Regions from separate parts of the Homo sapiens genome. Here all the other regions are linked to region 3. The links come from fine-mapping of genetic effects on gene expression. A gene starts in region 3. Each other region holds a variant in brackets. All regions are shown on one strand. Distances are between the middles of the regions.

Region 1 (4,069 bases), 95 kb after region 3:
ACAAGACGAATGTATCTCCAGGTTCCAATTTTTCTGAGAATGGTTGATAGAGAAGCTGCTCTCTCCTTAAAATGCATGGACTCAATGGCTTGAAGATATTCCCCATGGGGAACCATTGCCACGGAGGCCTTGCATGCAAGAAGTTTGGGTGGGGACAGTGAGGAACTGAAACACAAGCACCTTCCACCAATTATTGCTGTGAAGAACCTGAGCCTGAAGAAGCTCCATCTAATTTTTTCCCCAGAGTTCCAGATTTTAGGGTGCAATCATCCAGCCTATACATGTGGCTCATAGTTCAAAAAATTAAAAGCAAAACCAGAACTCTCCAGTAGGAATGGAGAAAACCTATCTGTAGGCTGAACTGGCTCCTTTGTCTTAGGAGGCACTGGTCAGGGGAAAAAAGCTGTCTTCCAGACCCCTCCTTTCTGGGTGGCTACTGTGGAATCAACGGGGTCACTGGCTGTAAATCAGTAAGTCATAGCTCCAAACAGCACCAACTTCAGGATGATGGTGGAAGCTCTGTCCCTATAGGAGCCACCGTTGCCAGCTGTCACATCCCAACCTAGGTCAAATATGGCGGAATATTGATTTCGTCTCTAACTCCCTGTATCTCTTACAAAGGTAAAGCAGGTAGCGAAGCCACCTTGCTTCCCTGGTCTTTGCCTAGTGGCTGGCAATGTTTACAAGTGTACCTTACTTTATATCAACATGAATTTGTGAAAAAGCTGTATGTCAATGGATTTTTTAAAAATTAAAAATGTATTTTGAATGACCCTAAGGGAGCTGGCTCTTTAAAAGCATCCTAAGGTAAAGATTTTTTTTAAATGAAGAATCTTTTTATAAAGCAATGAACAATCTCTGATTTTATAAATCTTAATTTTCCTATGGGTTTTCTTAAAGTGAAATACAATTATAAGAATACATTTTAAGGGTAACATTAACAACCTAGAACCCAGTTTGGGTTACTAAAAATAAAATGTCAGTATTATCAATTGATAACTACCACAGTTTTATACTCTGCAAGTGTGTACTGCATGATGGTTAAGGAAAAACAAATTTATTTTAGAACAAAGCAAACCAGAGTTTAAAGATCAGGGATTTCCTTCTTTCCCCAGTGCTAATTTTCCCAGTGTTAATTTTATTATATCTTTAGGTAAGGGTCTTAACCAACTGATGCCTCAGTTTCTTCCACAGAGAATAGTTAGAGGGATGCTGTCATGAACTAAGGGAAGGGCACTGAATTTTTTTTTGCCAATATCAAAAGTGACATTTCCCCATGATGTTCAAGACTCACCAGGTTTCTCTCTCCACCTGTACCTACACCCAGCTAGATCTTGTCGTTAAAGATGTATGGAGGGAAGAGGTTTCAATCCTTCCCTCCTTGGCAACCTACATTGTTAAGTGACTCAAAGTCATGTGATTTTTGGTGGACAACTGGAATCCTCCTTCTTGTAAAACACATTGAAAAACAGCTCATCTCTCCTGTTAGGCTTAACCCTTGAGATTTGAGACAAAGCTAATAATCCCCTTTGGTTCACATCTCACAGTAACCAGGAGAACCTATGGTTCATTTGCCAAGTGATTAAAAAAAAAGATGGAGGAGGGTGTCTCTGAATTTTAATGGAAACACTGCCAATAGCATGGTGGGTAACCTAGGGCAAGACAGACTTTTTCTTCCTGAAATCACTCTTCTAAAGCTGAGACCGGAAGAGGAACCTTGCAGAAGTGCACTGTGACCACAGTTCTTGGCATGAAAGATAAACAATTTGCAGTCTCATGCCAAAAAGTATTTCCTTGCATTTACATTCATTACTTAGAATGATCACATTATTCATTTTTTTCCCCAGCACAGAAATTTGCATTTTGCACAGAATTTGCCTGGTGCAGCAGATCTTTATAGTTATGGAAACTGTCATCATTATCGGAATGTGCTGCTGCTCAACTCCCCAGACATAATTTAATATGGTGAGGAGAATATGACCTGCCTGGCTCTATGGGTGATCATATTTCTACTGCTGCAGCAAGCTGGGCTTGTGTATTTTTCCTCACTTCAGTTGTTCTTCCCATAGTTCATGTAGGGAGGCACTTTGGCTTTTGAAACACTACATTTCTCAATATTTAAGCACAATTTATTGTCCTTATTTTTCAGAACCCATTAAATATAAGGGTCAGAACCTAGAAAATCTTATGTGCTGGATTTCTACCCTGTATGATTCTTTTCATCCATGCTTTGCACTTACGTAGGAATATACATAATTTGGTCTGAAGAAGTATAGGAACAGTTGAGCACATTACTTCACCACTGGAAGAATAGGAACCAGGGAAAAACATCAGCCTCTGCCACTTGGAGCACTAGAGGATGACGGAATGTCTTGTATATGCGGTCAACTGTTCAGGATTTACTACTCAATTGGTTGTTCACAATCAGGGAAATGATTGGCTTCTTGGTTGTTTGTTGAACTTTCTTTCTTTATATGGTTAA[ATTATT/A]TTGTTTTGATAAAAATAAAACTTAAAATGCAAATGTCTCACGTGATTTGTTAACATTTTAACCAAAACCCCTGCAAATCATATGCTTTATGAATTGGACATCTGATTATTCCTAATCATTGACCCAATGCCTCGTTGGCCGTATTGGTATCCCATTCCACTCAACAAAGGGATTAGGTCATGTCAAATGATCTCACTTTCTTGTGGTGCTTCCTTTTCACACATAGCTCGTTTGTCATTATCTGCCATATTTTATAGTCTGTAACTTAGGAATCTGGTTTTAGATTCTTAAATGTAGCGAAACTCTGAAGCCACAGGAGGGCACGAACCACAGTGCAATAATCCAGAATCTTTTCCCCTTGGATTTGATGTTTTCTGGACATTTAGCATTATTCATTAACAGAGAAAACATCCTTAAATCAAAATCATAGCTTCTTATGAAGGTGATTTATGTACTCCTTGCAAGAATAAGTAGACTTACTTTTACAGCCCAACACAATGTTATTAGTCTATTTACATACCTCTTGAAGACACTTGAAGTCAGTGGGGCACAATTCATTGGAGGGAAAAGTGGGATCGAGGATATGGAAGGAACAGGTATACTAATTGATGGCAGTTAATAGCTTTTTTCCCCAAACTCATCAAACTGTAATCGCCGTTATTATAATTAATCTATTTGTTCCAAACTTCAGTCATTTGAGAACCATCTTAATGCTTTTTGCCATATGTATCAAGATGCCACATGTGGGTATATTTTTTACTTAATACTTTTATTTAAATTATCTCTGTGTTAAAGAAGCAATTATTGCCCTAAGCAATAATGTCTATGAAAACTTGTTGAATTTTCGAGTTAAGTATATTTTCAAATATGCATTAAATGTAGTAAAACTATTAAAAATTGTTCATGTGCCAGTTAAATACCATCTTCATATTACCAGTGGTCTACCCAGTGCACTTGGGGAAACATCGAGCTAACCTAAACAGTATGTTTGCTGTTAGGTTTTCTAGTTATTCTGGCTTCTATGAAGCAGAGCTCTGTCTCCATTTTTTCTCCAAGACAATAGAACTGGTGACCACAAACAGAATTGTGGGATTATTGGGTAAGTTTCTTTGGTCAAACTGTAGAGTTAAATAACTGACATTTCAAATCAAAGGATTTTGGTCTCAAAGGAATAATCACATAATGTTTTGTTGCATAAATATGTTTTTTGTTTGTTTGTTTGTTTTGGTGTTTTGAGTGTTGGCTGATTAGTCGGTGAGTACAGAATGATGTATAGGAATGCATAGTTAGGAATTCATGCCCAACCAGAAGCACCGACATAAGTTCTGCTGAAATAACTGCTTCCATACTTCTAAATGTGAGGGAAATGGATTTGGCTGTACTAAGAACCACAGAGAGCAACTTTTTAAGTCTCCTTAGTGTCAGCTTGTTGATCTTTGGGCTGTGTATGCAGAAAGAATTGCTCAGTGGCATCTGTGACCTTTGTTTCCAGCGGTGACAGACACAGTCTGCCTTCAGTTTCCTTCAGTTTCTGCCAGAGGCAAATTCAACAGCCTCTACCATTGAGCATCTTGGGATTAG
Region 2 (4,069 bases), 88 kb after region 3:
TTCTTTCTCACTCTGAAGGTCTCATTTCTGATGTCGCCTTTCTGAGAAGTCTTCCTTGACTATATAAAACAGTCCTCCCTGGCTACTCTTTGGATTAAGCCCCCTCATTACTCTCTTTACTACCCCCTGCTTATCATGAGTCTGTAGTATGCTCCCCTCCATTTCTCATTAGTGTCTGGAATAGCCTCCTGTTAATTGTTACTGCCTGTAATACTCTCATTTTCACTCTCGGTAATATCCCCGTCCTCGATTTATTTCCTTTGCGACCCCATCACAATAGGCGTCTGCTTCCTTGTCTTTGCTTCTCTTTCCCCATTACAGTAGAAGCTCTTGAGGGCCAGCGTCACCTTTGTTTTGTTCTTCTCAGACTCTTCAAGGTGGAGCATGGTGCCTGGGTCATTGAAGGGGCCCAGGATGTGGTTGTTGAACAGGTGAATGGAGTACCAAAAGCCTGGTTCTGTGCCATTAGATTACCTGAGTACACGGGAGGGTCAAGAAAGATTGTGTGGAAGAAAAAAGCATTGCTATCTTTCCCAAACTGTGCACTTCTCTACGGATTTTCAAAGTTGATTTGCTCAGGATTAGCACACTTGGTAATCTAGTAACTTACCCCTTGAGATATAAGAAGTGGAACTGTTCTTTTGGTTTAAGATGGAGGATGGAACACATTTATTTACCTCAGCTTTTCTCTAACAACCAACAAGAGGTTAGTAATTAAAGGTGTTTTTAATATATAAGCTCACAAGGAGAAACGACTTGGAGAAGAAATGATGCCACCAGTTTGAAAACTGGAGTGCAGAGTCTGAATGGGAACTGATGTAGCTGACCCCAAGGAATGGAATCCTGATTTAACAGTGAGAAGACTCCCCACAACTCAGACATTCATGGTACCAGGTGTGGCTGAAAACAAGATTGATTGAAAGACTAAGAAGCAATCAGACTTCATTCCCACTCCGTTTCTACTTCTCAGAGCTTGGTAACTTCCCTCACCCTTGGAGAAGACTAGGGGCTTAGTCTCTGGACAGCATACAAAATGCTGGGGGACACTTGGCATAATTAGTTCAGCAGGGGAGTGAGGGGACTAGATTGAAAATGGGGTTTGAGCAAATGTGAATACTGCATATGAGCCCCCAGAATCTCTTCTCTAATTTTGACTCCAGAATGCCGGCAGCCTGGCTTCTATTTTCCAGTCAGGAGACCCGAGGACTCTTCTTGTAGAAGCTGACCAGTACACGTGGAGACCTGCAGATAACTACTTCAGGGTTCCCACTGAAACAGGGCAACCACATAACCTAACAGTAGGGCCCATGGTTGACAGATTGCACTTGTAAAGAACACCAAGTCAGCTTTTTTGTGCCCATTTCCTAAACATAAGCAGCGAAGATTGCTGTATTTCTCAGGAAAGCCACCAACCTAAAGAGAGAAATAAAAACAAACCAATGGAAACAAAGGAACTTGGAAGAGGGACTATGTAGGGGGAGGCAAACTTCAACAACGACAACAACAACAACCCATTATTAACATTGCCGGGGGTAAAAGAGAGGATGTTAGAGCTATGAAGTAAGAACAGGATGCTATAAAAAAAGAACATGGGAAAGAACTCTTAGAAATTAAAAGCATAATAGCAGAAATAGAAACTCATTGGAATATAAAGTTGAGGAAATTCCCCCAAAAGTGAAGCAAAAAGACCAAGAAACAGAACATCACAGCGAAAAGATAAGAAAAATAGAAGATTATACTAGGAGATCCAATAACCCAATAAGGGCA[A/G]TTCTAGAAAGAGAGAGAAGACAAAACAGAAGGGAAAAAAAATCAGAAATAACAGGTAAGTTCAAGAGTTATATTGTACAACATGGTAACTATAGTTAATGACAATGTTTTGTATTCTTAAAAATTGCTGAGAGTATAAGTGTTCTTGCCAAAAAAAGATAAGCCTATGGGCTAATACATATGTTATTAATAATCTAATTTAGCCAACCTACAATGTGTGTATATTTCAAAACAATGCATTGTACATGAGGAAGGAAAAGGAAAAAAGAAAAACAGAACCACATTTTTCTAAAACCTGAGGACATGATTCAGATTGAAAGAATTGATTGAGTGCCCAGCCAATGAATGAAGATCGACCCAGGCTGTGGTGACACCAGAAATAAAGAAGAGCCTCGGGGATTCCAGAGAACGACATACAAAAAGATTTCATCCAAAGGACCATGAATCATAAATCATATTGTCTCCAGACTTTTCAACAACTGGAACGCAATAGAGCCGTGTCTGCAACCCCAAAGGGAAATGATTTCCGATTTTGAATGTCATACCCAGCCAAGCTGCCAATGACATCTAAAGAGTTATACTTCATGTACCCTTTCTCATGAAACTACTAGAAGTTTTGTGTTAGGAAAGCAGGAGTGTAAACCAAGAAAAAAGAAGTTGTAGAGGTTCAGGAACCAGGAAAGAGGCGAAGAGAATCAGCACAGCGGGGATGAAGGGAGACCCCAGGGGCACAGCCATGCTGCAGAGAAACATGGTCCACTTGGAGCAAATCAGAAAGTTTCAAGGAAACATTTCTCACAGAATGAAATGAAACCTCAGACAATTGGAGAGGTGGTTGGAAAATGATTTTAGAAATGAGTCCATAGAAAACTCAGCAAAATTTTTAAAAAGCAAAATCGTCATTAATCCCAGGGAAAGCAGTTTTCACAAGAAAGGCAACGTAATCGTAGTATACTACAAGATTCAGTGCTGACAGGTATTCTCCTAAACATACTAATATAAACATGGAATATTCGCCTAAATGAAAACAGGCCATAGGGGTTAGAGAACTGTTGAGAAGATAGAGAGGTGGAATGTGTGCTTGTGTGGGGGGTCATGAAGTTTGAAGAGGAGGAGAGCTGGAAGAAGAGGGAAACCCTCCTCTCTCCCCATGAGAAGTCACAGCTACTACTTCCACAAAATGTAGTTCTATAACAATGTTATCAGACATGAAGGAGCTAAAAGTCAAAAGACTCCCGAATGGGAAAAGATGGATGGGTTGGCAGGGGTTGCAGTTTTTCTTAATACACAGTTAGGCTTGACTTTTCAGACTGCACATGTGTACCTTTCATCAAAATAAAAGCAAATTTAAAAGTGGGTCTAGTGCTTCTTCTCTAGTGACACAGTCGTTTTAAGATATTTCTCTGATCTCATATCATGATGGAACCTGCCCTCTCTGAAATTTTGTGATCCTTTTGACTGGTATGCCAGGTCATCAGTGCGGGTGAAGGATGAAGGAAAGACAGGTATGAGAAGTGCTGTTTTGTGGATATTGTCAGGGCCCTTCTTTCCTTCCACAATCACAACAATAACCACCACAACAAAACAACAGCATCACAAAAGCCAACCTCATCCCTTGCTGCCCAGCACTCTAGTGGGAATTAAGACCTGGTTTATATTTCTGGGTTCCCACCATGCATCGAGTGAAACGTCTATTCTGACTACTTGGTAGTATGTCAGAGAATTCAAGCTGATCTAAAATTTACCTAAACAGACATGACCAGGAATACAACTCTGATGAGAAGAAGCAACATGAAATATAGATATATTTTATGATATGTATCATTCAGGGGTTTTTCTACTTTGAGAATTGGTTTTGCCATTTCCTTCCTTCATAGAGTGGATATATTTTATTTGACCAAATGTGAATTGGTTGGAGATAAATTGAGTTCTTGCACACACCCTGTGAGATGAGGGTTAATGAGCTCAGAGGCGATCAAGAAGTCATGGACAACCTCCCAGGAAATTACTCTTTGCTAATTTTATAATTCCAGTCATATGTAAATGTGCCTCTCCCCTTGCAGGTCTGAATCTGCAAGAGGAGCCATCTTGTGCCACCTCAGAATCACCTCCTTGTTGTGGGAAGGAAGAGAAGAAGGAAGGTGACTGCAGACAAACCTTAGGAACCCTCTCTCTTGGTACAAGTTCAAGAATTGTCAGGGAAATGGACAAACGAACTGTGAAGGTGGGCATGATGATTTTGAGCTGCCTCTACCTATTCCTGGTCTAGATGTATAGCCCTGCTTGTTCTTGCTGCTCTTGT
Region 3 (4,069 bases):
CTCCTGAGTACCTGGGACTACAGGTGTGCACCACCACACCCGGCTAATTTTTTGTATTTTTAGTAGAAATGGGGTTTCACCATGTTGGCCAGGCTAGTCTCAAACTCCTGGCCTCAAGTGATCCGCCTGCCTTGGCCTCCCAAAGTGCTGGGATTACAGGCATGGGATTACATGTTGCTGCATGGATACATGATTTTATTATTTTTATGGCTTTGTATATTCCGTGGTGTATATATGCCACTTTTTCTTCATCCAGTCTACCGTTGACAGGCACCCAGGTTGATTCCATGCCTTTGCTATTTGTGAATAGTGCTGTGATAAACATACGAGTGCAGGTGTCTTTTTGGTAGAATGATTTATCTTCCTTTGGGTAGATACCCAGTAATGAGATTGCTGGGTCGAATGGTAGTTCTACTTTTAGTCCTTTAAGAAATATCCAAACTGTTTTCCACAGGGGTTGAACTAATTTACATTCCCACCAACAATGTGTGAGTGTTCCCTTTTTTTTCTGCAACCTCACCAACATCTGTTATTTTTTGACTTTTTAGTCATAGCCATTCTGACTGCTGTGAGATGGTATCTCATTGTGGTTTTGATTTGCATTTCTCTGATAATCAGAGATGATGAGCATTTTTAAAATATGCTTGTTGGCTGCTTGCATGTCTTCTTTTGAGAAGTGTCTCTTCATGACCTTTGCTCACTTTTTAATGGTTTTGTTGTTGTTTGTTTAAGTTCCTTATAGATTCTGAATATTAGACCTCTGTTGGCTGCATAGTTTGCAAATCGTTTCTCCCATTCCATAGGTTGTCTGTTTACATTGTTGATTATTTCTTTTGCTACATAGAAACACTTTGGTTTAATTAGGTACCAGTTGTCAATATTTATTTTTGTTGCATTTGCTTTTGAGGACTTAGTCTTAAATTCTTTGTCTAGGCTGACATTCAGAAGAGTATTTCCTTGGTTTTCTTGTAGGATTTTTATAGTTTGAAGTCTTACATTTAAGTATTTAATTCATTTTGGGTTAATTTTTGTATATATTGAGAGGTAAGAGTCCAGTTTCATTCTGGAATTAGAGTGGCACTAATCACTCTATTCAACATTCTTCTGCATATGGTTAGCTAGTTTCCCCAGCACCATTTATTGAATAGGGGGTCCTTTCTTTCACTGTTTATTTTTGTTGACTTTGTTGAAAATCAGTTGGTTTTAGGTGTGCAGCTTTATTTCTGGGTTCTCTATTCTGTTCCATTGGTCTGTGTGTCTATTTTTATACCAATACCATGCTGTGTTGGTTATTGTGGCCTTGTAGTATAGTTTGAAGTCAGATAATGTGATGCCTCTGGCTTTGTTATTTTTGCTTAGGATTGCTTTGGCTATTCGGGCTCCTTTTTGGTTCCATATGAATTCTGGAATAGTTTTTTTCTAATTCTGTGAAAAATGACATTGGTAATTTGATAGGAATAGTGTTGAATTGCTTTGAGCAGTATGGACATTTTAATGATATTGAGTCTTATAATCCATGAGCATGGAGTGTTTTATCATTTGTTTGTTTTCTTTCAGTAGTATTTTGTAGTTCTCCTTGTAGAGATCTTTCACCTCCTTGGTTAGATGTATTCCTAGGTGTGTGTGTGTGTGTGTGTGTGTGTGTGTGTGTGTGTTGCTATTGTAAATGGGATTGTGTTCTTGATTTGGCTCTCGGCTTGAACATTACTGGTGTATAGAAATGCTACTGATTTTTGTACATTGATTTTTGTATCCTTAAACTACTGAAGTCATTCATTGGGTCTAGGAGTCTTTTGGTGGCAACTTTAGGGTTTTCTAGATATAGAATCATATCATCAGTGAAGAGAGATAACTTGACTTCCTCTTTTCCTATTTGGATGCCTTTTATTTCTTTCTCTTGCCTGATTGCTCTGGCTAGGATTTTCAGTACTATGTTGAATAGAGTGATCAGTGCCATATCTTAAAAATAAAACCTAATTCAAACAAATCCATGTTGAACAAAATATCACCATTTTACATAAAGACAGCATCGCAGAAATCTTTCACTGGGACCTCCCACCATAGTCAATTGCAGTGGAAATGCTCATTCTGGGCCCTCAGGAACCTCTGGGGTTACATGTGGAGGTTCTGCAAACACTTGTTCCATCCACATCTCCAGGAAAACGACCACCTAGGCTCTAATTCTTAAACTTGCCTGCACAGAACAACCTCATCTCTAATGCAATGTTTTTTTGCACACCTACATTTCTGGGCAGCAAGCTCTTTATAGGTTGTTAGGTCAATAGTAACAATTACTAAAGAGCTGAGCGGTGGCTCTTTTTTTTTTTTTTTCGTGTCTGCTTCTATCTCTTCCTGTTTTCTAAGGGTTGCTACCGTGACGTTAGGTAATGTATAGGAAATAATTTACTTCCTATTTCTGGGCCATACCAAGTTTTATCTCTGCTTGAGTCTCTTCCAGGTTGCTTGAAATGGTGCTTTTCTCAGTTAAACGTGGACTTGACATAAAGGCCAAGCCACAGGAGGCTGCCCTCTTTTATTTTATTTTATTTTCTAAGGCTCAGGGAGCATCTCTCCGTTCTCTGAGATGCTGCCTGCAGAGTAGGAACTGGGAGAGAACACTAAAATGCCCTCTCAGCAAAGAGTAGCGAGCTCCCTACAGAGAGTGAGAGCACGGGCTCTTGAGCTCATCTCTTCTCTGTGGGGCCAGCCCAGTGGTCCTTTCTGGACCTGTGGGTGTCTTCTCTGGGCAACCAGATCATTGTGTTTGAATCAGAGCATCATTGGCTGAAAACACTCCACTGTTTATAAAGGTATGTAACATGCTCCATGACATAAGCATATATAAAATGTCAGTTAAAAAAAAACTCTTTTACTCTATGTTCTTAATGATATATTTATCTTCAAGCACGCAGTTAAAGGGAAAATGCTACGTAAAACTGTGTGTGACCCAGTTCAAGTAATTCTCTCATGTGCTTAATACTGCTGTTGCTTTTGTCAAAATATTTACTACAATTCAAAATGGCTGTCAGAAACCAGGTCCACAATCCATGTTCTACTAAACAGAAAAACATTTATAAGAAAATTTATTGCTTTATAAACTGTTTTTTTTCCCAGTGATGAACCTAATTAAACTGAAAGTGTGAATTGGTTAGAACATATTAGCCCAAGTATGTGTGGTATATATATACACATATATATGTATGTTTTATTAGGCCAAGTTTTTTATTTGTATATAATATAATTGAAATATCAAGGTATTTGATAGAGCTACTATTTATAGCAATTCTACTGATCAGCCACCCAAGGGTAGCATTTTTCAATGAGATTTACAAGGGCCAATAGTCCATGTATTTATACACATATCTGACTTCCCAGTATCCAAAATAGCAAAGAGCTGGAGGCTATCTCAGATCAGCCATGGAAGCCATGCTCTGAGAGGTAACGTGTTTCTCCTTTCCCGTAGCAAATCTTTCTGTAAGAATGAAACCAGAGATGTTATCTACCAAAATGCAACGAGGGACAGGATGCAACTTAGAAAAATGGTAACATTAGCTGACTGGGAAAAACAGAATCAACGTCAGGGCCAGTTTAAAATAATATGCCTTTTAACCACCCTCGCTTTATTGCCCCAGCTAAGAGCAAGTATTTAGGACCATAGGCTAATATTAATCAGAGAGAACACTTAGGTTCTGTGGCAATGTTGGGGTCTGTGAGATTTGCTTCCTTAGCTGTGCTTCCGCTGGGAAGCTGGGGAGGGTTGGTCCTGAAGGAGGAGTGCCATGTGAGCAGGGTTACCCAAAAGCACCTGCCTAGGGGAAATGGGCTCACTATCAGGCGCCGTGGAGTTACCAGCTAGAGAGACTTTTCTCCTGGTAGAGACCATGAACATCATGTAAGCAGAGAACCAAGACTGTAAAAGGGAGGTAGGGTAGGCTGTTTGGTTAGGGGAGTGGGGCAGGAACAGACACAGGGAGAGTCTACCACGTCTGGACAAATCACATCTATGGTTTTATCCAATCCTTTGAACAAATGAACATGAGCCCCACTTTTCAGATAAGGAAAACACAGC
Region 4 (4,069 bases), 23 kb after region 3:
CAGCTTATTTGCTAGCTTATTTCTTTTTATCGATGAATAATATTCCATTGTCTGGATGTGTGTTTACTGATGTTTACTGAAGGACATCTTGCTCACGTCCAGGTTTTTGCAATTACAATGCTGATGTTTACATCAGTGTGCAGGTTTTTGTGTGAATGTCAGTTTTCAACTCACTGGGCAATGATATAGTTCCTCTTCCTCCCTCCCCCCTTTTTTTTTACTTTCTGAAAATTGCGATACAACATACATAAAATATAACACTTTCACCATTGTGAAGCATACAGTTCAGTGGCATGAAGTGCATTCACATTGCATGCATCCCTTTTAAAGCAATGGTGTTCTAGGCATGAGGCTCTACACAGGTAGGGTGGGGACTGAGTAACAGCGTAAGTGGTCCCCATACGTGGCGGAGTGGGTGATGGTGGTCCAGGATGAACGGAAGTTTGGGAAACTTGTAACTACACCAGCCATCTTAGTACCCAAGTTCTATCTGCTAAACGTATCCAATATGCTTCTCCATGGCCTTCTCTTTCGGGGCCCTAAATGTAAATTCTAAAAACCTACTTATGGCATTTTCATGTTCTCTCTTTGCCCAGGCTCATTTGTGGTTTGCTTTTGCAAAGGAGGGCTTGGGAAATTGTCACTTCTTCTCTTCAAGTTTCTCCCACCTCTTTGTTCCCCTCTCCTCCATAAAGCTGCACATTTGCGCCAAAAGATATAACTGTTTGTGGGGGGGAATTGGGAGGAGGTGGGGAGCTGCACACGCGGCAGATGAGGGATGCGCCAAGTTCCCTGCGTGTGGGAGCCTGGGGATGGCAACAGGGTGAGGGCTTGGCATTCAGTCCAGGTGACCAAGGGGCTGTCCCGGACCCTTCCCTCGCTCAAAGAGGTAAGCCTTCTAGCGAGCTGCTTTCCCAGCCCCGGCCCCCAGCTTCCCCATCAGTCCAATGGGGACAATAGGACTTGCCATCTCCTTGATTCAGAGTGAGCAAAATTATCTGCAGCTTTTTGAGGTTTTCCTGAGAAAAGCGTCATCTCCCTCGAGGAAGGTGTTAGTCAGCTGTCATCTTGCCAGCAGGGATCAGCTGTTACTCAAAGGCGTCAATTTCGCAGTGATCACAGAACAGGCTGCAGAGAGCACAAAATGATCATCGTGGCAGGTGTGTCGGAAACATAGCGCTCTTTTCCTGGCATTTCTACTTTGAAGCCCCAAGCCTCCCACCCTATGAGAGTCAGTTCTGGGCTCCTTTTCCTCCTCCCCCTACCCCCAGGTTGGGCTAAAGTTTTTGGGGGGCACATGATACTCAGCCCTCAGCTCCCCAGGCAGGCCCCCACTGAGACACCCCTCGGGTGACAACCCCCTCAATTTGGCCCCATTTTCCCAGTCACTTCAGGGCCTTTCTGGGTGCTCTGAAATTCGTCCTGCAGCGAGAGCTCTGCGTGTGCCTCGTCCTCCTGCCTGGACGCACACTCCGGGCTGTTGATGCTCTGTGTCCTGGCACCCCTCTTTCCAGACTGCCCTGGGGAATGGAGCAGGAATTGCCACTGAGGCAGGAGCTGGACGGACTTATTTCTCCCTTCCTCCCTTCCGTGACCTCCCCACCCATGACCATTATAACCGGGGGATCAGGACAGGAGGCTTGTACTCATCCAGTTTCCTTAGGGTTTGGGGCTTTTGGAATTAAAACGCCTTTACTGAGTTTCTGCCACAGGAAGACAGAAGCCCTGCTCACCTATTCTCCGACTCAGCATTTAAGAGCCAACTGCAGGCAGTGCTTCTGTGTCTGATGGCTCCCTGTGGCCACAGAGCCTACCCCGTGCATTCATGCGTGCAGCTGGAAATGCCAGGACATGGCTGCTCCCACAGGCAGTCCCGATGCAGGCAGCTCACTTGCCCCTGGGGTGCATGTTCTACATGATCTCCTGGTGTCCCCCAGTGGGATTAAGCTCCAGTCACCCACAGTGGGGACTTGCTGGACATTTTGTAGCCTCCTTCACCCCCAGCCTTCCCATTTCCTTACAAGTGTTTCCTGGGATCACCTCCCAAATAAAATACTTGGGAATGGAATCCTTTTCTCAGGAACCCACCCCGAGACAGCATCCCTTGCTAGAGGCGATGCATGGAGACTGCTGAGCTGACGGATGGGGGAAGAGACAAGGGTAGGAGGAAGACAGGGTGGGGGAGGAACCGGTAGTTAATAGTTCAAAATATTATGGCGTATAATTGAAAACTGAAATAAATGGAGCGCTTA[C/T]TCTGTGCTGGGCACAGCACTTGGTGTTTTCACATAACTTATTTCATCTGAACCTCCTGGTGGCTCTGCCCCAATGCCACTGTTCTTAGAGATGAGGAAACAGTCTCAGGGCCACCCTCTAGCAAGATGGTTAAGCAGAGACAGAAATTCAGGCCTACTGGTCTCCTGGGGAGGTTCCTGAAATTCTCAGCTAGTAGAAAGGTTGCAGCGTCTTGAGGTAAGCCTTTATCTTCCATTCCTATTAGCTCTTATCCGTTCTGGCAGCTACCTGTTAATCTCTAAAGATTCCTGCCTTTACATCTTTCCTTAAACAATTAGAACGTCTCAGATTGTTTTGAAGCCAGGGGCTCTTGCAGATGGCCTAGTGTGGTGAGGTTCATAATGAGACCAGAGGTTTAGGAGAGGGACAGAGAGTGGGTGCAATGGTCTTCTGGGTCCTCCCTTCTGCTCAGTGATGTGCTGGTAAATGTTGAGACTGGCTTTCAGGATGAAAAAAAAAAAAAAGGACTGACTTGTAGCATTTGCTGATTTTTGTGGTGTCAGTGCTTCCACTGTGGCCAGTTCAAGCTGTGAACATGATGCTACTGATGCTGAGGTTGGGAAGAGCCAGAGGTGTGACGTTCCACACTGCCAGGAAGCGTTCCCACCACACCAGCACATCCCACATAAATGGCCCCAAGATCCCTGAGAATGGAAGATGCCATAGAATCCTTAGCAGTGGTGAGCTCTGAGTATGTAGGAGCTGGTGTGAACTGGATGTTTCTTCCCCCCAGCTCCAAATCTACATGTAAAATCCTCACTCCCCATGTGATGGTATTAGGAGGTGGGTCCTTTGGGAGGTGGTCAGGTCATGACGTGGAGCCCTCATGAGTGGAATGAGTGCCTTATAAAGGGGACCCCAGAGAGCTCCACTGGTCTTTCCGTGATGTGAGGGGGCAGCAAGAAGACGGCCATCTAGGTACCAGGATGCAGGCCCTCACCAGGCACTGAACCTGTCTTGGACTTAAACTTGATCTTGAACTTCCCGTCTCCAGAGCTGTGTGAAATAAATATTTGTCATTTAAGCCACCCAATCTAGGGTATTTTTGTTATAGCAGCCCAAAGTACTTTTAAAAAATTGAGTACCTTTGCTCAATGAAGACAATACTTTAAAAAAAAAATTGAGACAGTACCTGTTTACAATTGAGGTAAAATTCACATAACATTAAATTCACCATTTTAACTATTTGAAAGTGAACAATTCTATGGCACTTAGTACATTCATAGTTTTACAAACTACCACCTCTGTCTGGTTCCAGAACATTTTCATCACCCCAGAAGGAAACGTTGTACCCAGTTAAAGCCTCATTCCCCATTCTCCCCCTCCTCTGGCAACCACTATAATTTGTTTTCTGTTTCCGTGAGTTTGTCTATTCCAGTTTCTTCATACAAATGCAATTATAAAACACGTGATATTTTGTGTCTGGCTTCTTTCATGCAGCATGACGTTTTCAAGGTGCATCCATGTTGTAGCATGTGCAAGCACTTTGTTGCTTTTTATGGCTGATTACGATTCTACGGTACTGTATATTGCCGTTTGTCTATCCACTCATCAGCTGATGGACATTTCTGTCATTTCTCTCTTTTGACTATTTTGAATAAAGCTACTGTGAACATGCACGTACAAATTTTTGTTTGAATACCTGTTTTCAATTCTTTGGGGTATATACCTAGACGTAGAATTGCTGGATCCTATGGTAATACATGTTTAACTTTTTGAGGAACTACCCAGTTGTTTTTAAAGTGGCTGCATCATTTTATATCCCCACCAGTCGTGT
Region 5 (4,069 bases), 56 kb before region 3:
TTCCAGAGACTTCCTGCCCCAGTCTTGTGCCTTTCTGTTACAGGGCAGCAGCCTCTCCTTTCTGCAACATCCACTTGGTCTTGATGAAAAATGAAACCAACCTGCCAATCATGTCTTACCGAAGTTACCTGCGGTGATGAATATAATAATTTTGAACTTTTCTTTAGCATATAAATAATCCCTGCCTTTATTATAATATTCTGCAGGATAATGTCTAACTCAGTCCTAACCAAGAGCATTATATTTGTATGTGTTTTCTTCAGGAGGCTATTATAATGAAATAAAAAGGCAGCAAAGCTCACTGGGAAAACAGCAGGCTGGGGCTGCCCTTGCGTTGGAAAGTGCTTAGGGGAGGGAAGGTTCATTCTTCTCTCACCAGCCTCCCACTGCCCTTCCCAGGGGACTCTCTGATGTGGAAAGCCCTAGAGTTCTCCAGCATTCTTCCCCGGGGCATCATGGCTCTGGCCATTCCTGTGATCCTGTCCTTCCATGCACAGCTCTTGGCAGGCCTCTTGACTTAGCCACGTGATCCCAACTGGGTGAAGGTGGATGTCCTTTGGCCCACACTTGTGGCTGCCAGGATATAGGTTTGGTGCAGAGATTTAATTTTTGGAGAGCTGAGAACTCGAAACTGGTGGATGGACATGGCTTCTTGGATGGCTGGCTTATCAAGAGCAGCTGGCCATTTATGATTTGTTAAGGGCTTTTGCTCTCTCCTGGCCTCAGCTTCTCTCTGGATCTTATCACAAACCTGTTATAGTTTCATTTGATTTGTTTCTTCGTTTATTTTTTTCCTCCCTTTTTGGTTATTGTTATTTTCCTGGGGTTTTGAGGATCAGACTGAGCAGGGTGAGGGAGCCAAGTTACCGCTTGGAAACCTCAGAGACAGCGAGATCAGATTTCAGGTCTAAGGTGAATTTGCTGTGGCCCAGAATATTCACTCTCTTTGTCTAGCAGCTCAATTCCCTAATTGCCCTAATTGCAGTGAGCTTCTTTTTATCTGCAGGTCAACAGGGATACCTCAGTGATGCATTTGACTTCTTAGGAGGTAAGATCAGCCCCCCACCCATCCCTTATTCTGAAGAGGAGGATGTTTTCCTTGAGTTCAAACCCTAGAGCCACATTCTACATCATAATTCCTTCTACACCATAATTCAACTCAATTCACAAAACAGGGATCCAGCTTCTGCTTTGAAAGTTCCCATGCTTACCATTAAGGACAAAACCACAATGGGCAAATGTGGAATCTTGGTTCTGGATTCTCCCTGCCCTGGGATGAAGAAAGGCATGGCGGTTGGCTGGAGAGCGCTGAGCCTCCCAGTTGAAGAGTTAGGGCCCTGCCAGTGACTATCCCACCCTCCCCTGTCTGATCCTTGCTGTCCTCTCTGGCTCTCATCCCTCTTCAACATGTCTTTTCCATCCTGTGCCACCATCTGAACACCTTGGTCGAATGCATCAGGCTACTGTCTGAATCTGGGACTCTGCACACACAGCATCTTCTGCCCAAGACATGTTCTCTTCTCTGGTCATTGACGTGACTCTTACTCATCTGTCGGGTGGGTGTCTGTTAGGGACTCAGCTGATTGCGTGTCACAGAAGATCCAAATAGGAGAAACTTCAGCAAGATAGGGGTTGACTTTTTTCTCTCGCAAAAAGAAGTCTGAGGGTAGACAGTTGAGGATGGTGTGCAGACACCTGGTCCAAGGGCTTTGCAACATTCCTGACCTTTCCCCCGCCTTTCTGTGTTGCAAGATGTCCGCTGCGGCTCCAACCATCAAGTTTTGGACTCAGGCAGGAAGAAGAGGAAAGGTAGGGGGCAAACCCGCAAGGACCACAAGCGTCTTTTAAGGAGGTTACCTTGAGGTCCATCCACCTGGCCGCTGCTGCTTACCTCTCATCTGCCAGAACTGTGGCACAGCTCTGCAGGGAGAGCTGGGAAATGTAGTTTTTCCTTTTTCAGCTGAGCACATAGTCCTTTCTTCCTCCCATTACTCTAAATATGGTTCTGCAAAGTATATTCAGAGAAGTGGAGCTTCTCATGTCCCATTCATGGCATTTTGTAAAATAGATTTTTATGACTTTACTACCTTTTAAAAAATAAATGGAGCATATTGTACATCCTTTTCTCCATCTTGCTTGTCTTTGCCTCACAATATATCCAGAAGAGTTCTCCCAACATGGTTGTGTTATTTTACATCCCCACCAGCAATATGTGGGAGGTGTACTTGGCCCACATCTTAGCCAGTATTTACTGCTGTCATTTTTTTTTTTTTTTTTTTTTTGAGACAGACTCTCGCTCTGTCGCCCAGGCAGGCGTGCAGTGGCACAATCCTGGCTCACTACAACCTCTGCCTCCCGGGTTCCAGTGATTCTCCCGCTTCAGCCTCCCGAGTAGTTCGGATGATAGGCGTGCGCCCCCATGCCTGGCTAA[T/C]TTTTGTATTTTTTAGTGGAGATGGGGTTTCATCATGTTGGTTAGGCTGGTGTCGAACTCATGGCCTCAAGTGATCCGCCTGCCTTGGCCTCCCAAAGTGCTGGGATTACAGGCATGAGCCTCCATGCCCAGCCAGTGCTGTCAATTTTTAAAATTGTATTCACTCTAGTGTCTATAAAATTGTATAACACTGTGGTTTTAATTTTTATTTTCCTGTAACCTAATGATGTTGAGCACATTTTGATGTACTTTTTGACCATTCATGTACTTCCTTTTGTGAAGGTTCTGTTCGAGACATTTACCTATTTTTATTGGGCTGTCTTTTTATTACAAATTCATAATAATCCCTTAATTGTTCCTGAATCAGACAGGTATAGTATAGACATTTTCTATGAGTCTATGACTTGCCTATTCATTTTCTTACTGATGTCTTTTGAAGGATTGATATTTTAAATTATGATTAAATGTATCAGTTTTTCTTTAAAAAAATGTGGTCTGTTAAAGAAGGAGCTGTATTCATTTCCCAGGGCATCCCTAACAAATGGCCACAAACTGGGAGGCTTAGAACAACGGAAATGGTTTCCTTTGCAGTTCTGGAGGCTGGAAGTCTGAAATCAAGGTGTAGGCAGGGCTGTGCTCCCTCTGAAGGCTGTGGGGAAGGGTCTGCTCCAGACCTGTCTCCCAGCTGCTGGAGGCTGCCAGCAACACCTGCTGCTCCTGTGCTTACGGCTGTGCCACTCCAATCTCTGCCTCCATTGGCACCTGACCCTCTCCCCTGTGTGTCTTGTATCTTCTCTTCTGATAAGGATGCAAATCATATTAGATTAGGGCCTCCCCTACTTCTATGTAACCTTAACTAATTACATCTGCAATAACCCTCTTTCCAAATAAGGTCACATTCTGAGGTTCCAGGAAGAACATGAATTTTGGAGGGGCACTATCCAACCAAACATAGATATCAAGGCGAATGGCTAGGAAATTAACTGTCTCTTTATAAGGTTTCAGCTTAGCTTGTGAGCACTGAAAGCATCCCCTCCTTCACAGCATAGTAGCTAAATGGTAGTTGCCTGCTTCCTTGTCTGAATTCCTCGTGTGTCAGAGGGCAGGGAACTCTTACTTTGTTCCTCTCCCTGACCCCTGACTTTAAGTAACAGAAATCCTTAAATTGGCTGAAATTGTAAGGGAATTTATCTTCTTGGCCAACAGGAAGTCCATAGGTGGGTCAGCTCCAGGCTTCGGAGTTAGGGCCTTAGCTTTGCTCATGCCCTCCAGGATGTGTTAGCTTCAACTTCGGTCAGGAAGCAAGATGGCAGCTTCCATTTCAGATAAGCATTTGTAGAGGGGATATTTCCCAGACTTCCCCAGCCATGTCAGGCTAGGTCACATGTCCTTTTGTCAACCAGTTGCTGGTAAGGCCTGGCTTGGACTAATTACTTAGGGGTCACCTGACGTTGGGGATTCAATCAACAAGACCCTTTCCCTGTATGAATGACTATATTCTTGTTGCACTGTTGAGCCTGGGACACTGCTGTGCCCATGGTGGCTTCTTGATTGTGTGGTGACCTTGAAGGCTCCAAAGGCCCTGCTCAAAGCCCTAGAGGCATTTTGCAGGATCATGCGAACCAATGGAAACACGTT
Region 6 (4,069 bases), 29 kb before region 3:
TGGAGGTTTAACTCTTTTTTTTTTTTTTTTTGGCCATTGTCTGACTTCAGTAAACTGTCTTGTATATGCCTATAGTGAATGTGTTTGATTATGTTGTCAGGAAAAATTTTCTAGACGATTAATCGCTGTGCCCATATTGCCAAGCTGGTCTCCAGAAAGTTTACTATTTCACATGCCCATCAACAGGGCTGGAGGAGGCCTCTTCCCTGCAGCCTTGCCAAGCCCAGCTTTGGCAATATCTCACCTTCTTCTCAGTCTGGTGGATAAAAAATGACATCTCATCTTCACCTGCTTTTCTTTTGATGATCAGAGAGGTGAAGTATCTCTTCATAGGCTCCTTGGACATTGGCATGGCTTCTGGAAATGTCTTTGCCTATTTTTTTTTCAATTGGGCACCTTGTCTTTTTCATACTTTTTTGTAATCACCAGATTGCTACACTGGTGAATTAACTTGAATCCTCAGCAAACTTTCAACTTCATCTCAAGCACCCCTCAGCTGGAAGAAGGTGAGCTGGTCAGGGCTGAAGGCCGCTTCTCCAGCCTTGCTGGCCCGGGTGAGCTGTGCCAAGAGCCAGCTGGGCTGAGGCTCCACTCTGCTGAGGCTCCCAAGGCCTGACAGTGGCCCATTACACTGCTGACCACAGCTGGAAGCTTCTCAACTGACCTGTTAGGGTATGTTCAACCTCTGGTCCTGCATGACGTCCGTAGGATCACTTTGGGCAGTTGCTATGCTCCGGTCCTGCATGACGTCCGTAGGATCACTTTGGGCAGTTGCTATGCTCCGGTCCTGCATGACGTCCGTAGGATCACTTTGGGCAGTTGCTATGCTCTGGTCCTGCATGACGTCCGTAGGATCACTTTGGGCAGTTGCTATGCTCCGGTCCTGCATGACGTCCGTAGGATCACTTTGGGCAGTTGCTATGCTCCGGTCCTGCATGACGTCCGTAGGATCACTTTGGGCAGTTGCTATGCTCCGGTCCTGCATGACGTCCATAGGATCACTTTGGGCAGTTGCTATGCTCTGGTCCTGCATGACGTCCGTAGGATCACTTTGGGCAGTTGCTATGCTCTGGTCCTGCATGACGTCCATAGGATCACTTTGGGCAGTTGCTATGCTTGTTTTTCCAGTAGGAAAACACACCTCCCCCGTCAAGTTCTTATCCAAACTCAATTTTTGTGATAATTTAAAGCAATGTATATGAATGCAGGTCTGTCCATAGGCATCTCCATGCAGAACCAGATGGCCCTGCCCATGGGCAGAACAAGTGGCCCCGTGTGTGCCTCAATTTGACAGTTGCCAAGGAGGAAAAGGGAATAGAAAGCATGGATTTTGGGTTATGGGTGTAGGGCTGGGGACACAACAAGCAGCAGATAAAGGCTGGTTGACCAAGTGAGGAAGAAGCACATGCTGGAGTCCAGGGGTCAGAGACTCAAGAGCTCATCTCCCTGCATTCTGTCATTTTCCAGCTTGGAAACAGACACTCAGAGAAGGGAGGCAGCTCAGCGGCAAGGACGAGCCCTGGAGCAAGAGTGCATGCCTCCCCCTGGCTCTCTGCTCCTTTAGGCCCTACTTGACTTCCATGCTGCTCACTCTCAGGTCCCAGAGAAGAGCGCATCATTGCCATCAAGTGCAGGTCACTGGTCAGCAGTGCCGTGGGATAAGACGATGATAAGCACATGCCTTCTGGGCTTGGCCCATGGTGGGGCTGCTGCTCTTTGGGGCCCTGATATGGGAACACCTCACAGCTCAGATGCTCCTCCTTGGTTCCCAGCAGATGTCTTGGGCATGTTTCTGGGTCAGCTTCCTGCTGGCTTCTCAGTGGCATTGAGGACCACCCCAGAACCCTCTAATGTGGACTATCATGCCCAGAATCTTGCTGAATGGTGGACAGAAAGCAGTGGCTGTAGCAGCCAGCAGATCCCCTGCTCCCCTCCTGCTCTCCCTCCCTACCAAAGAGGACTCGAAGTAGCAGAACCCAGGCCCAAAGCAGTCCCTCTATCCACGGTGATCTTGTGTCCTTGTTCGGTTATTTTCTTGTCTCTTGTCTGTATTTCCTTATGGGGACTGTGCCATCCTGCTCATCACTGTCACCCAGCACCAAGGACAGTGCCTGACATGTAGAACGTCATTGATTGCTGAATAAATGAGGAACAAGGAGACTGAAGGGAAAACAGCTGCATGGGTCTTTCTTTATCCGCTTTTCTCTCTTGACCTTTAAGCAGATGGAAACTGTGGGCTTTCTCTTTAGTCTACTCTGAGAAGCTACAGGTGAGATACTGGACCTCTCAGAGACCTGAGAAGGACAAGAGAAACCCAGCGGTCCCACCATGGGCCAAGCCAGAAGGCATGTGTTTATTGTCGTCTTGGCTCAAGACACTGTTCTCACATGCTTGGCTCCCCATAGACTGGCTGCGTGGTCCTTCTGTTCCCAAC[C/T]TCTCTGTGCTCATCTGGGATGGGAGCGTCTGTAGTCTTCCTCACAGAGCCCTGGAGCCACATGGGTTGGGGTGGAATCTCAACTTTGCTTCTTACTAACCGTACAATCTTGGGGAAGTCATTCGATCTCTTTGTGCCTCAGGTTCCTCTTATAAATGAGACTAATGAAAGCACCTGGCTTAGAGGGTTGTGGTGAGGATTGAGGAATACCATGCATGACAGGTATCCACCTCCACTGGCCCCTTCCCCTCCAAGATGGAAAAAAAACCATCTGCATGGCAGCAGGAACATTGATTACTGGTTCCTCTACACCAGCTACCCCAGCAGTCCTCTTTCAGCCTCTCGGTAGCTCTAAGGAATAACGACTATTATTATTCTTGTTGACCCATAAGGAAAATAAGCCACAGAGAAGGGACTCACACAAGATCACTGGGCTCATGTTCTACTGTTGCTGTAGAAAATTACTACAAATTTAGCAGCTTGAAGCAACACCCATTTATTATCTCACAATCTGTTTGTCAGAGGTCCAGGAATAGCATGTCTCAGCTGGTTCCCTGCTCTGAGTCTTACAAAGGTAAAATCAAGAAGTTGGCAGAGCTGGGTGTGGCAACTCATGCCTGGAATCCCAGCACTTTGGAGGCGAGATTGGGAGGATCACTTGAGCCCAGCAGTTTGAGATCAGCCTTGGCAACATAGTAAGCCTCCATCTCTACACAAAATAATAAAAAAAAAATCCAGGCAGCTGGGCGCAGTGGCTCACGCCTGTAATCCCAGCACTTTGGGAGGCCGAGGCGGGCAGATCATGAGGTCAAGAGATCGAGACCATCCTGGCTAACGTGATGAAACCCTGTCTCTACTAAAAATACAAAAAATTAGCCAGGCGTGGTGGCGGGTGCCTGTAGTCCCAGCTACTCAGGAGGCTGAGGCAGGAGAATGGTGTGAACCCGGGGGGCGGAGCTGGCAGTGAGCCGAGACTGTGCCACTGCACTCCAGCCTGGGTGACAGAGCGAGACTCCATCTCAAAAAAAAATAATAATAATAATCCAGGCATGATGGTGCATGCCTGTGATCCCAGTTATTAGGTTGGTGCAAAAGTAATTGCGGTTTTTGCCATGACTTTCAGTGGCCACAGTTACTTTTGCACCAACCCAATACTTGGGAGGCTGAGGTGGGAGGATTGCTTGAACCCAGGAATTTGAGGCTGCAGTGATCCATGATGGCACCACTGCACTTCAGCTTGGGCAACGGAGCAAGACCCTGTCTCAAAAAAAGTCAGTAGGCTGTGTTCCTTACTGGAAGCCCTGGGGAAGAATCCACTTCCAAGCTTATTCAGCTTGTCATCAGAATTGAATTCCACGTGGTTGGGGGACTGAGGTCCCTGTTTTCTTACTAACTGTGGACTGAATACATTGTCAAGGTCTAGAGGCTGCCTCATTCCTTGGCTCATGGCCCCCTTCAAGGCCAGCATAGGCTGTCAAGTCCTTCTCATGCTTCGAGTCTCTCTTCCTTCCCCTCCTGCCTCATCTCCTACCCTCTGCTGCTGCTTCATTGCCCTGCCTTTCTCTTCTGCTTTTAAGGGTTCATGTGATTACTTCAGCCCCAACTTTATAATTGAGAGTATTTTTCCTATCTTAA
Region 7 (4,069 bases), 40 kb after region 3:
TATTATTTTACATCTCCACTATCAGAGTATGAGAGTTCCATTTCTCTACATTATTGCCAACACTTGGTATGGTAATTTTTTTTAGTTTTAGTCATTTGAATAGTTATGTAGTGGTATCTCTTTATAGCTTGAATTTGCATTTCCCTAACAAGTGATGATATTCAGCATCTTTTTTTGTGTGCTTATTTAGCATTTGTATATCTTCTCTGGCGAAGTGTCTCTTCAAATCTTTTGCGCATCAAAAATGGGTTGTTTTCTTATTGAGTTTTGAGAATTTTTTTAATATACTCTGATTATAAGTTCCTTATCGGAGATGTGATTTGTAACTATTTTCTTTCAATCTATGGCTTATCTTTCTATTCTTTTAGTAGCATCTTTTAAAAAGCAACTGTCTTTCACTTTGATGATATTTAATTTACCTTTTTTTGTTATGTTTTTAGTGTCATAGTTTAAAAAAGTGTGTCTAAACAGAGCTTCAAAGCTTTTCTTCTAAATTTTTCTCTAAAGTTTTATACTTTTAAGTTTTATATTTAGGTCTATAATTCATTTTCACTTAGTGTTTACATATGGTGTGATGTATGGATCGAAGTTCTTATTTTTGTGTGTGGATATCTTATCTAGTTGTTCCAGCATCATTTGTTGATCTATTTGTCTATTTCAATGCAAATACCACACTGACTTGATTACGCCGCTTGACTCTGAGACTTATTATAAAGCTAAAGTATTCCAAAGAGTGTGGTTTTTGCATCAAAATGGATACAAAGATCAATGGAGCAAAATAGAGAATACAGAAATAGACCATGCTGTGGTCAATTGATTTTTCATACAGGCTCAAAGGAAATTCAGCGGAAAAAGTATAGTCTTTTCAACAAATGGTTCCAGACCTGGAAAATTTCTCCATCAATAAGTTGAGGTGTCATCAGGCTTACCTCATCTGTTTCTCTTCTTTCATGGATCACTGCCTTTATTGCTCAATGTCCAATGCCCTGAACACTATTGTTTTGTATCTTTATTCAGTTTTTTACTTGGGATGGTAAATCTGGTTACTTTTGCAAAGTCTTGGTCAGAAGTCCCTGGCCTATTGCAGTGCCTCCTAGTTGATCTCCCCTACTTTTATTGGTCTGCTAAAGTTTAAGTTCAATTGTTGATGTGAATTATATTTTATTTCCAAAAAGTTTTATTTAATTATTTTTTTAATTTGCTTGATCATTTTATAGTCTCTTGCACTTGACTCTTATTTTCAACCTTTTTTTTTTTTTTTAAAAAAAAAAACACATCTAATGTTTTGCATCTGACAATGACAACCTATGAAGTCTTGGCACATCTGACTCTGTTTTATATATTTGCTCTCACATATGTTAACTTATTTCCTTGTTTGTGTTAAAATTTTTGACTGTGAGTTGATATTTTTGGAACTTTGAGATGTGGGTTGAAGGTGGATTCCTCCAATAAATATTTGTTTTGCTTCCACTGGGTGCCTGGGGGTGCTCGTTTGTTTGTTGTTATGTTCCCCGGGCAGGTGGTGGGGTAGGGAGTATTTATTTCTAATTCACCCACATACTGAGAGTATGCCTTTCAGAGGTCTCAGCTTTATGCAGGAAAGGAGGTTGGGTCTTCCATGTGCCTCTCACTGAAGAACATTCTGGGCTTTGAGTCCTGTACCCTCAGCTGCACCAGAGCATGAAAATAGGAAGGTCATCCTCATCTGGTTTGGCAGATTCCTCAAAGTGAAAGCAATCTCACTTTTCCAGGGCGCAGCT[C/T]TCACTTGGTTTTTGCCTTTGAACTATTTCTTATCTTTTAATCAGAACATACGTAAATTTAAATATAAGTTTAAAAAATGTTTACATTTTACGCTGCATTTTTAATTGTTTTCAGTATAAGGATAAATTTGGTGGTAATCAGTCAGAGTATTGAGTCCACTGTGCTGTTGGAAATGGAGTTCTTATTTTTTAACCTTGATAATGATGGTTTTTTCATTAAGAATTTGTAAATTTTGATGTAGTCAAATGGGGCTGTCTTTTCATGACTTTTTGGTATATCTAAGAAATCTTTCTTTACTCTCAATTTCCTACTTTCAAAAATATGCAGATATGTTATCTTATGTTTTCTTCTTGTATGAATTCATATATATAGAAGGATTTATTTTTATTTTTGTTTATAAAGACAACTATGGACCACGGGTTAAATATGGTTTTTAACTTATTTTAACCATGAGCAACGCATTATTTATATACATATATATTTGATCGACAGGGTCTCACTATGTTGCCCAGGCTGCAGGGCAGTGGCTATTCACAGGTGTGATCATAGCACACCACAGCCTCACACTCCTGGCCTCAGTGGTCTTCCTGCCTCAGCTTCTGGAGTAGCTGGGAGTACAGGCATGCACCACCATGCCTGGCTTGGTTTTTATATTTTTAAAAGCTTATCCATATAAAAACAGAAGAAGAATACGTGGCACAGATTGTCTGTGGCATACAAAGTCTAAAATATTTATTAGCTGGACCTTTGCATAAAAATCAAGCAGACCCCTGCATTAATCCACTTTTGCCCACTTACATGTTAAATTTTAGCTTCCCGTTTATACTTGAAGTTTTTTTCAGGGCCTTTCATTCTGCTTTCATTCATCTCTATGTTTTTTGCCAACTGCAAATACCACACTGTAATGAAAATGGTTGTTTTCATTAACAAAACTACATGAGTTAAAGAAGAGAGATTAGAAAATGCAGGATCCACTTCCAGAGTGGAAATGGAAAAACGCAGAAAATTCATACTCAGAAGCCTAATTGCCCTGACATTAACTAGAGGCATAGAGATCCGGAGCACTCACAAAATACCTCCCTGCCTTGCCCAAAGCAAGCGCGGGATCATGGAATTAGATTTTATTGATTAATTTATAACTGTGTACTGTGCTGTATGAAGCATGAAACATTCAGAGACTTGTTCCTAGGAAGCTTCCAACAAATGGAACAATGAATTGTGAAGCCCCAAGTGAATGGAAATGAGCGAGGAGAAGATTGCAGGTTGTATGGGAGAAGGGCACTCTATAAAACCCTAAAATATACATTAGTCGTTGAAGGGGAGAGTGGAGAAGAAAAAAATCCTGGGCTTTGAGAATGCAATTCTATTAGCAGATAGTGTTTTTCCTTATGGAGCGGATGTTTATCTGTCTAAGCCATGTGTCTATTCACTTTAGTCATCACACAATTTACTTATTCAATGAGATAGCACTCTCAGTAATGAGAGCACAATCTCTGCAGTGAGGTAAAGACAAAGACCTACAGATGTGGCCCTGAGTCCACGTGGCCTCTGCTGCATGTGACCCCCACCACATGTGGCTGAGACTCTTTGTCACGTTGGCCACAGCCCCAGAGCTTTGACAGCAGTCCCAGGTCCTGCTTAGCAGGATACAGAGGCTCTGCCATCCACACCTCCACTGCTCTTCTCTTTGCTTTGTTCTTCTCTGTGGGGTCAAGAGAGGAAAGTGAGGGAAATAGCACGTCAGATCTCATAGTTTCGCCCCAGAAAGGAATGTGTGTGGAGTGGGCTGTGTACACCTGCAAGAGCCACTCCTTGGGTCTACTGTCCTTCCCTGAGAGAGCCTGACAAAGGTGGCAAGGGGGTGACGAGTGTATCACCCTCACAGCCGGGTGCGGAGGTGCAGCCTGACGAAAGTGTCCTGGATGGGGCCCCAACAGCACTGGCCACACCTTGAGGGGACTTGCATGGCTGGTGATGGAGATGAGCTTGCAAAACCTTCCTAAGCCAGGATGCTGCTTCTCCAGGAGGGGCTGCACACAGAACGTTTTGGGAGAACCAGGAGAGAGAGAAACGTACCCTGCCCATGACTAAACTAAACAGTCCTTTGAAGACATTGCCAAGGTCCACTTGGGCTGTTCTCGAAGGCAAAAAGTTTGAAATTCCACCTTGATGAAGTGCGAATTCAGAGGCGGGGCCTTTCCTAGCTCTCTCCTTGTTATTTTGCGTGAGGAGAAAGACCCCCGCTTGCTAATTTTCTGAAAGTAAAACCTCCCTGCAGTTCAAACTGTGCCGTTCTTAACACCTGCAA

Direction of the effects. Alleles are on the strand shown, and positions count from the first base shown. SD is a standard deviation of normalised expression in the study named. Not every link is listed here.
For the expression in whole blood of the gene that starts at base 2,424 in region 3, allele A in region 2 goes with a lower level than allele G (small effect, 0.24 SD a copy in Lepik 2017).

The links. PIP is the estimated chance that this variant, and not a neighbour inherited with it, causes the effect.
Region 1: its variant is fine-mapped to the expression of ZNF831 in whole blood (TOPMed, PIP 0.98).
Region 2: its variant is fine-mapped to the expression of ZNF831 in whole blood (Lepik 2017, PIP 0.92).
Region 4: its variant is fine-mapped to the expression of ZNF831 in whole blood (TOPMed, PIP above 0.99).
Region 5: its variant is fine-mapped to the expression of ZNF831 in whole blood (TOPMed, PIP above 0.99).
Region 6: its variant is fine-mapped to the expression of ZNF831 in whole blood (TOPMed, PIP above 0.99).
Region 7: its variant is fine-mapped to the expression of ZNF831 in whole blood (TOPMed, PIP 0.98).

Annotation. Positions count from the first base shown.
Region 1 is chr20:59,256,593-59,260,661 of GRCh38, forward strand. ZNF831 (zinc finger protein 831) reads left to right here. Exons shown (of 6, transcript NM_178457.3): 6 at 1-2,521. Among named protein-coding and RNA genes, the nearest start is that of EDN3, 42 kb to the right of the region's middle. The variant ATTATT/A (reference allele first, on the strand shown) is at 2,483.
Region 2 is chr20:59,249,148-59,253,216 of GRCh38, forward strand. It overlaps ZNF831 (zinc finger protein 831), which reads left to right. Exons shown (of 6, transcript NM_178457.3): 5 at 3,831-3,991. Among named protein-coding and RNA genes, the nearest start is that of EDN3, 49 kb to the right of the region's middle. The variant A/G (reference allele first, on the strand shown) is at 1,768.
Region 3 is chr20:59,161,398-59,165,466 of GRCh38, forward strand. ZNF831 (zinc finger protein 831) reads left to right here and starts at 2,424. Exons shown (of 6, transcript NM_178457.3): 1 at 2,424-2,810.
Region 4 is chr20:59,184,201-59,188,269 of GRCh38, forward strand. The region is part of intron 1 of ZNF831 (zinc finger protein 831); the gene reads left to right. Among named protein-coding and RNA genes, the nearest start is that of ZNF831, 22 kb to the left of the region's middle. The variant C/T (reference allele first, on the strand shown) is at 2,253.
Region 5 is chr20:59,105,324-59,109,392 of GRCh38, forward strand. No RefSeq gene overlaps it. Among named protein-coding and RNA genes, the nearest start is that of ZNF831, 56 kb to the right of the region's middle. RefSeq lists an enhancer at 740-1,241. The variant T/C (reference allele first, on the strand shown) is at 2,432.
Region 6 is chr20:59,132,276-59,136,344 of GRCh38, forward strand. It overlaps a transcript of ZNF831 not described here. Among named protein-coding and RNA genes, the nearest start is that of ZNF831, 30 kb to the right of the region's middle. The variant C/T (reference allele first, on the strand shown) is at 2,435.
Region 7 is chr20:59,201,079-59,205,147 of GRCh38, forward strand. All of the region lies in intron 3 of ZNF831 (zinc finger protein 831), which reads left to right. Among named protein-coding and RNA genes, the nearest start is that of ZNF831, 39 kb to the left of the region's middle. The variant C/T (reference allele first, on the strand shown) is at 1,761.